Linked DNA regions of Homo sapiens: region 2 is linked to region 1. Evidence: fine-mapped expression QTL. A gene starts in region 1. The other region holds a variant in brackets. All regions are shown on one strand. Distances are from middle to middle. Region 1 holds the start of UFL1 (UFM1 specific ligase 1). Region 2 has its middle 3.0 kb from the start of FHL5.

Region 1 (4,360 bases):
CAAATACACACCATTAGCTGATGGCTAAGTCTTCATGGCTGAAGCCATAAGCAATAACTTACTTTCAATTTTTTTTTTTTTTTTAAATAACATCAGGCCAATTATGAGCACCAACTGGCACACAAATTGGCTCTATCTATGAAGGGTATTCATTTCCCTTCACAATTCAGAATTTATCTACTGTGATCAAAGAGATATTGACAACTAAATTAAGATGAACTTTTTTTCAATTATTTGATACTAAAAGGTAGGCTTCTACATATCAGCATAAGAAAATCTGTTAAGTAATTCAAATTATAGCTCATATTTTAAAGGTACTATGAAGGAAAATAGATAAATAAAAAAAGACAAAGACCAATGTTACACTCTGATAATATGAAGAGAGGCTTTCATAATTGCTTCTATTTTAATCAAATAGTATTCAAATATGCTTGGTAGTCTGTTCAAATTTTAAGAAGACAAAGGAAACCAACTTTGTGCGTGTTTTTAACAGCATTTCATACAATATGATTGGTGTAGCACCACACTGGATTGAGTTACCTAATTTGTAAGTACAAGTAAGCCTTAAAAAGAAATACAGCCTTGATTTTCAAAAATCTATAATCCTGTAAGATACTGTCCCCCTTCACAATTACCACCTAATAAAAGGCAGCTGAATACCCTTCCCTGAGTCATGCAATAAATTAATGAATTGTAAAAAGAAACAATTAATTCATGTATAGTACACATAACTCAAAATGATAAAATATTTTAAGTGACAACATTTGAGTTCATTTAAATTATATGACCATGTTTGCATGAACCCAGTAAAAATATTAAGCCTGATTATCAAATTAACAATTGAAAACGATATCTTACAATCTATAATTTAGTATGCAATTACATGTTTACGGGTTTTGTTTGTTTGTTTTGCCCCTTCCAAAAATCCAAGAAAAAAAAAAACACTAAAGAATTACCTACCACCTCGGACATGTAGCTCATCTCTCATTTCTTTACTAATTTGGGCTGGAGTAATATATTCCTTTCCATCGAGTGTATGAACTACTTCTAGCTGTTTCTGAGCAATCAATTTATTAACAATCTCAATGCAGTTCCGCTCGGACAACCTGAGGGAAAGAAAAAAAGTTGTTTCAAAAGTCCACTTGAGACATTGGCGCTCAATAAAATTAATACAATGTATGAAAACAGGCTTTTAAAAAGTTTGTTTAGTCACTAACTTCTACATCACAATATCTGTATTTTTCACTAACTGATTCAATAAGTTAAAAAAAAACCTTTCAGAGTAAGTAGGTTTACATATGCTTAAATCATTTATTTAATTGGTACACATCATCCCATCACAAATTTCAAGTCTGTTGTCTCTTACAGGCCTGCTTCCAATCTTCAAATCTGAAGGGAAAATTGAAGACATTTATTTAGGTAGGAAAAAAGAAAAAACAAAACAAAACAAAACAAAAAATGCCCTAATTTCCAGTTTAATCAGAATTTTCTTTTAAATTAAGTGCATAATTGCCTCACTTACACACATGGTCTGCAAGCAGGCAGGGGATGTGGCCTAGTGAAACCATAACTTTTACCCACGTTAGTTACCCATGCAGTTACGAGTTTGCTATCAGTGGTAGAAAATACAGCATAAGGGGATTGCTGTCTTCCGGCTCAAAAGGAATAAAACATCGCAGGTAGGAAGTAGTCAAAGAATAGAAAGGCTTCTATTAGCGTTATTTTTAAAAAGCAGAGTTAGGCTCCTCTGGACACATCCTCCAAAGGTTAGTGGGCTTGTAGAAAATGTCAGTGCCCTGAATAACAGATGGGGTCAGGGGTCTAGCCCTAGGTCTGTTACGAGAGATAAAAGGGCAAGAAGTTTTAAGGATCAACATACTATTTGCCAAGTACTGTACTGGGGGCGGGGGTTAGCCTCTCCTTTCGAGCTCATTCTAGATCAGGAAGTGTATAATAGCCAAGATGTCACAGTGATTTGGTGGTTGGTGGGTGAGGGAGGGTCAAAGAAATGCTCAATAAAGGCAGCTCGAAATCACCGGCCCCGTCCATGGTGGGGCGGGGCGCGCCAGCATTTCGCTGCAGCTGGGCTGGGGGGCTCCAGGGCGTCCTAGGCTGAGGACTTTCCCGCCGAGCCTTGGACTTGGAACTGCGATCCAGGCTCGGGACAGAGGGAGGAGGAGAGAATGGTGACAAGCAGCGAGAAGACCCGGGATGCAGGGCCGCGGGTCTAAAGTCCCAGATACAGGCGTGTCCGCCCACGGCCTAATTTGGGCTCCACAAAGGAGAGGGAGGGTCGGGCACCTCTGCGTGGCCTCGGCGAACTGCGCCCGCTGGAAGTCGGCCGCCAACCGCCTAATCTCTTCCCAGGCGTCCGCCATCACGGCCTGACTCGCAGTAGACGCGGAGGAACTGCAGACACGTCAGCCGACAGGCGGTGGGAGAAGAGAGGCGGAACGGGCCGCGCAGAGGGACAAGAGGCTCCGCCCCCGACGCAGACACACCAAACGCTTGCGCCCGAGGCGCGGGGGGCGGGCGGAAGTGCCGTGGTTGTACCGCGGCGCTGGGGGTTCCTCCCGGCGAGACTGGCGGGGCTGCGGCGGCTAGGAGAGTGGTGCGTAGGTGTTTCTGGGGGGGTCGTGGGCAGGATGCAGGGCTCAGTAAAGTTTAGTGTCAGAACTTTGTTTGCGCTACCCCTAATATTTCCGTAGAGTAATAGTTGTATTAACTACTTTTCTTTTTTCTTCTGTCCTCCATTTGTTTTGGGGGAGGGTGCGGAGGAATAAGCCTGTGTCTAAGATTGGCGCCTCTCTTCTCTAGCTGTTAACTCTGAGCATTCCCTTTTGTATAGGGTATCGTGTTAATTTTTACATGCACCCAGAGCAGTCTGCCTTTTGGAAGATACATGGGAGACCCTACCGAAAGTAATTACTTTTTTTTTACAGAGTGAATAAATTTGCGTGTCATAAAGGCTGTATAATTGCTTTCGTGTCTAGAGTTCTAGAGTCTTTCGTATTTCTCTTATTGCAATGATTAACTTCATCAAATAATGAGGAATATAAACATAAGGTGCATGGCTATCAAGGAAACAGGGAAAGCAAAGAGAACATGTATCCTGCTTCCCTGTTGAGTAGATATTTACTCAGGTGTACCTTTCTTTTTTATATCTTTTTTATATCTTATGAATTGAAAATAAATCATGGGACCCCCAAATCACTAAGCTAAAGGGAAAAGTCATACTGGGAACTGCTTAGGGAATCCTGCCTCCCATTCTATTCAAAGTCACCCCTCTGCTCACTGAGATAAATGCATGTCTGATTGCCTCATTTGGAGAGGCTCATAAGAGAATGCAACTGTCTGTTATCTACCTATGACTTGGAACTTCCTCCCCACTTGGAGTTGCCCCGCTTTTCCAGATCAGACCAATGTTTATCTTACATATATTGATTGCTGCCCCATGTCTCCCTAAAATGTGTAAAACCAAGCTGTGCCCCAGCCACCTTGGGCGCATGTTGTCAGGATCTGTGCCATGTCATGGATGCAAGTTCTTAACTTTGGCTAAATAAACTTTCTGAGTTGATTGTGACCTGTCTCAGATATTTGGAGTTCATGTATCTCACTCTTTACTATTTAAAAAATATTATTCCAGTTAGAAAGAATGAATAATATCAAGTATTTGATAGCACAGCAGGGTGACTAGTTGTCAGAGGCGTTTGAACTAGAGCAACTCCATCTTGAATAGGGGCTGGGTAAAATAAGGCTGAAACCTACTGGGCTGCATTCCCAGGAGGTTAGTCACAGAGTGAGATAGAAGGTCCACAGGCAGGAAAAACAAGTCATAAAGACCTTGCCGATAAAACAGGTTGCAGTAGTGAAGCCAACCAAAACCCACCAGAAACCAAGATGATGAATACAGTGACCTCTGGTCGTCTTCACTGCTCATTATATGCTAATTATAATTCATTATCATGTTAAAAGACACCCCCACCAGTGCCATGACAGTGTACAGATGCCATGGCAACGTCTGGAAGTTACCTTATATGGGTCTAAAATGGGGAGGAACTCTCAGCCCTGGGAATTGCCTACACCTTTCCTTGGAAAACTTGTGAATAATCCACCCCTTGTTTAGCTGTAATCAAGAAATAACTATAGGTATCCTTAGGCCAGCAGCTCAAGCCGTTGCTCTGCCTATGGAATAGCCATTTTTTTTTTCCTTTGCTTTCTTTATAAACTTGCTTCACTTTATGGATTTGCTTTCAATTCTTTCTTGTATGAAATCCAAAAACCTTCTCTTGGGGTCTGGATTGGGACACCTTTCCGGAAGTACAGTCAATAATAATTCAATTGTACATTTTAAAAAACA
Region 2 (4,404 bases), 38 kb before region 1:
TCTTCAGTTTGGAAGGCAGGATGAGAGAAGAAATTCTGCCTTAATCCCAGACCAAACTTAAACTGTCCTTGTTCTAACTGCTAAAGGAATGAAATGTTAATATCTTCTAAGGTCAAACTCGGGTATATACAGTCAAAGAACTTGAGCTAGAGAAATGCAGAGCCAGTTAACTGTATGTTTTGTTATTCACTTGACTTTAATGATTAAGACATTATGAAAATGAACATATGGCGACTAACAACAATAAATTTGGATTCAGCAAAAGGACACAAGTATATTTCATTAGTAATAGATTTTAATCCTTAGGACACCATTGCTAAACAGGTACTGCCTGTATTTTCCTTGTTTTATGGGCAAGGAAAGCAGTCCTTGAGATGTAAAAGTGCCTGGGACCATCACCCTCTTTATTTGCTCCCATGCTTCCTGAGAGGGTAATCTACATCCACCAAGTCATTCCAAACCTACTACATTCTGAGCCTTCTTCTCCCTCCCAACTTATTGCAATCTGTCTTTCACTTGAACCGCTCCAAAAAAGCTTCATTAAGATCATATACAACCTTGATTAGCAACCCAAAGAGTATGGTCTTCAGTCTTACCGAAAAATTCTCATCTCTGGCCATGTCTATTTCTTTCTGAAATTATCTTCCCTTGGTTTTGCTATGTTACACCCTTCTGATTTTCTGTTTGCTCTTAGCACCCTCACTTTCTCTCTATTCACCTCACTCTTCCCTAGAGCTTTATCTTCTGTTCAGTATGCTTCTCTGCAGACTTTCCATCACGTTCTTCATCAAAACAATGAACAATTTTATACAACATGACTCCCAAATGTGTACTTTCATCTGATACCACTCTTCAAGGTTCCAGACCTGTATCCCGCTATCTATTAGAAAACCTTGTCTAGGGGTCCCCAGCCATCTCAAACTCAACAGTCCCAAATATCCTTATTGTCTTCTCCCCATTCCAAACTTGTTAGTTTGCTGTATTTCCTACTTCAGGGAATGGCACAATCATCCACCCCTTATGTTAGAGTATTCCCTTTCCTCATTTATCCTCCACCATCCCCATCATTGTCCACCTTCTGTAGGTTCTAGTTTGTTAAATGATCTTTCTCAAATTTGTCCTCACCCCTGCATTCCATGTCTCACATGTCTCACTCAGATTATTCTGTCAGCCATAAAATAACTGGCATCTGCCTCAGCCTGATCCCTTTCTATCCTTCTCTATAGAAAAATATTATTTTTAAATAAGTTTGTTAAATTATAAAATACATGCTTCTTGCAGATAATCTGGAACAGAAACTGGAAAACATATACAGAAAATGTAAAATGTAAAATGATTTGCAATCCAAGACAGCCCAGACCAAATCTTTGTGTACCTCTTTAGGCTTTGTATCATTCATATATTAATGATACAGAGAAATGCTAAAATTTTTTGTAAATATATTGCATAACATAGTTATGCAGTATATTTAGTTAGAAAACCAAGACCACATTGTATATACTTGTAGAAAGTGCGAGATATTTTTCTTTTCCATTACTAGGTTTATGGTTGAGGCCCCTATAAAAAAAGGCAAATTAATAAAAGTATACAAATTATTTAATGTAAGTTTTTATGGGACATGGGAGCCTTTCAGAAATGAAGACTCAAAGCAAGAGATAAACGTGTGTATTTTTATGCTTAGATTTGATGAAGAGTGGATAGTCATGGAAAAGTATGACTGGACAAAGGGGATATAGTCTAATGATTATACACTCGGGGGAACTTAGCAAGGCCTGTTTGTTTAGACTCTTCTTTGTGTTCCTTTCTTCCAGGCATAGGGAGGTCTCTTGAATGAGGGTCTTATGACCTGCCTCGGGAGAGAAGGGTAAAGGGAAGGTGGGAATGATCTTCCTGCTTCTGGAGTTTTCTCAAACACCAAGGTGCCATATTTTAGCGTAGTGCATCCTGAACCCCATTATAAATCTGTATCCTTGTTTTCACTTAATATACTGTAATTTTCCAAGCCAATAAAATATTTTTTATTTTATTATTATACTTTAAGTTCTGGGGTACATGTGCACAACATACAGGTTTGTTACATATGTATACATGTGCCATGTTGGTTTGCTGCACCCATCAACTCATCATTTACATTAGATATTTCTCCTAATACTATCCCTCCCCCAGCCCCTCACCCTACAACAGGCCCCGGTGCGTGGTGTTCCCCTCCCTGTGTCCATGTGTTCTCATTGTTCAACTCCCATTTATCAGTAAGAACATGTGGTGTTTGGTTTTCTCTTCTTGTGTTACTTTGCTGAGAATGATGGTTTCCAGCTTCATCCATGTCCCTGCAAAGGACACAAACTCATCCTTTTTTATGGCTGCATAGTATTCCATGGTGTAGATGTGCCACATTTTCTTTATCCAGTCATTCACTGATGGACAAGCCAATAAAATATTTTTAAAGTGGCTATAACAAATAGTTGCTATGTAATAAAATACATAATGGAATAGCTCTCCTTTTTTTT[C/TC]TCTCTTTTTTCAACACCAAAAGATACACTCAGCATTTAAAACATACAAATCACAGGACTGAGATTAAGACTGAAAAGAGGAAAGGAGAAAAATCTAGAACATTGACTTTAAGTACATTTACATTTATTAGGTTGTATTTAAACAACAATATGTTCTATGTGTCAAGTCTTCAAGTTCTTACCCAACTCTGAAGTCTGTATGATAGAATTAGGTTAAGGACTGCATTTTAGATGAGTAAAGACAGGCTCAGTAGTAAAACAGTTTGACAAAGCACTTTTACTTCTTTACATTGAGTAACACAAAACATGAGACAACCTTTGAGACTTTTGTCTTAGGTTGACTAGTCAGATCGCAGTTTTTCTTTGGCAGACTAGTATCTGAATAGACTATTTCAGAGCCAAGATTGGCCTGTTTCTGTGCAAGAGAAGGTGTCCATGTTCCTCTCTACTAGAGGCTGGGAAAAAAGACTCGTATACATTTTTTAGTCATTTTAATTCTCAGAAAAGGAAGACATTAATTTCACGAATAATATGTACATTTTAAAGAATTTTGGTAAATTGCCAAATTGCTTTCCAGAATGTAATTTTTTTAGAAGACAAATGTAATTACTTAATTTCCCTGGTTAGTTGAATCTTTTAAAGGCTTCCATGTTTTTGAGATAGTGGTTGAACTTTGTAGCTTAGTGTTTAAGGCATTTCAAAACCCCCCTATTCTCTCTACTTTATCTTACACTACTTCCCCAGATCAGTTATTATATTTCTCAGACTTCTTGGCTCCCCACATCTCATTATTTCATTCTAATTAGCGTCATAGTACTTCTGTACCTCCTTTTCTCTGCCTTAATATGCTCTCCTTCCCTTCTCTCATTTTCACCAAGGCTAATCCTTCTTTTTTTCTCTCTGGACTCTTGGTTCAGGTGTTATTTCCAGCCTCCCCATTGTGCAACACAGTCTAAATTTCATTTCTTGTCACAACACCCTCTGTGTACTTTTACCAAGACACTATATTTAACTGTAATTATTGACTTGTTATTTCTTTGAAAGTAAAACATACCTTTAAAGTTGATATGTGCCTTCCTAGTATTTAGCTGTCATACACGATCGAGTAAATTAGGCCAAGTCCATAAATTCACCATGTTCTCCCTTTCCTCCATTTCACCATCAATGTAATCCTGTCTTTCCTGCTCCTTAAAACAAACACCCAGATTGTCTTACTACTAATCACTTCAGAGAAATAGAGATGCAACTAGGGGCAAGTTTGATAAAACAAATAATACAACACTGGGAACTTATAAACATTGAATACATGTTTACAGTGGTTATTCCTTCTTTTTTATGATGTAAGTGTAATACAAATTGTTTTTCTGAAAGCCTGAAAGTCAGTTTCATTCTTAGAAGGTTTGAAAGAAGCCTCTCCTGGATCTATTTATTCTGTTGTACGCTTAGTAGGGTCCTCAAGATAGAGCAACTTGTGTGAATTTGCAGGTCATTTAAATAGCCACTTGAACAGTGCTCCCAGATTTGTGTGGAAAATGTACATCCCAGGGGAGTTTTGTGTGTGCATTTATTACATCTCCCATGTATTGGGGGAAATTCTTCATTGGTCTTAGTGAAAGAAAGTAAATCTTCCATCCTCTTACTCCCTCCCAACTCACATCAGTTACTTCTTGATAGAAAAAATCCCATTTGTTTCTGTGAAATGGTTTGGCTGTGCCTCCACCCAAATCTCATCTTGAATTGTAACTCCCATATTTCCCATGTGTCATGGGAGGAACCTGGTGGGAGGTGATTGAAATGTGGGGGCAGGTCTTTTCTGTGCTGTTCCTGTGATAGTGAATGAGTCTCAGGAGATCTGATGGTTTTAAAAAGGGGCGTTTCCCTGCACAAATTCTCTTGT

Evidence for each region. PIP is the estimated chance that this variant, and not a neighbour inherited with it, causes the effect. A credible set is the group of variants that fine-mapping cannot tell apart.
Region 2: its variant is the best candidate, but not a certain one, in a credible set for the expression of UFL1 in whole blood (INTERVAL, PIP 0.57).

What each region holds. Positions count from the first base shown.
Region 1 is chr6:96,519,892-96,524,251 of GRCh38, reverse strand. It overlaps UFL1 (UFM1 specific ligase 1), which reads right to left and starts at 2,446. Exons shown (of 19, transcript NM_015323.5): 1 at 2,302-2,446; 2 at 961-1,106. The coding sequence starts at 2,378. UFL1-AS1 (UFL1 antisense RNA 1) reads left to right here and starts at 2,538. Exons shown (of 4, transcript XR_007059687.1): 1 at 2,538-4,360. RefSeq lists enhancers at 1,114-1,985, 2,652-2,841, 1,986-2,857, 2,858-3,729, 3,730-4,360.
Region 2 is chr6:96,557,912-96,562,315 of GRCh38, reverse strand. No RefSeq gene overlaps it. Among named protein-coding and RNA genes, the nearest start is that of FHL5, 3.0 kb to the left of the region's middle. The variant C/TC (reference allele first, on the strand shown) is at 2,508.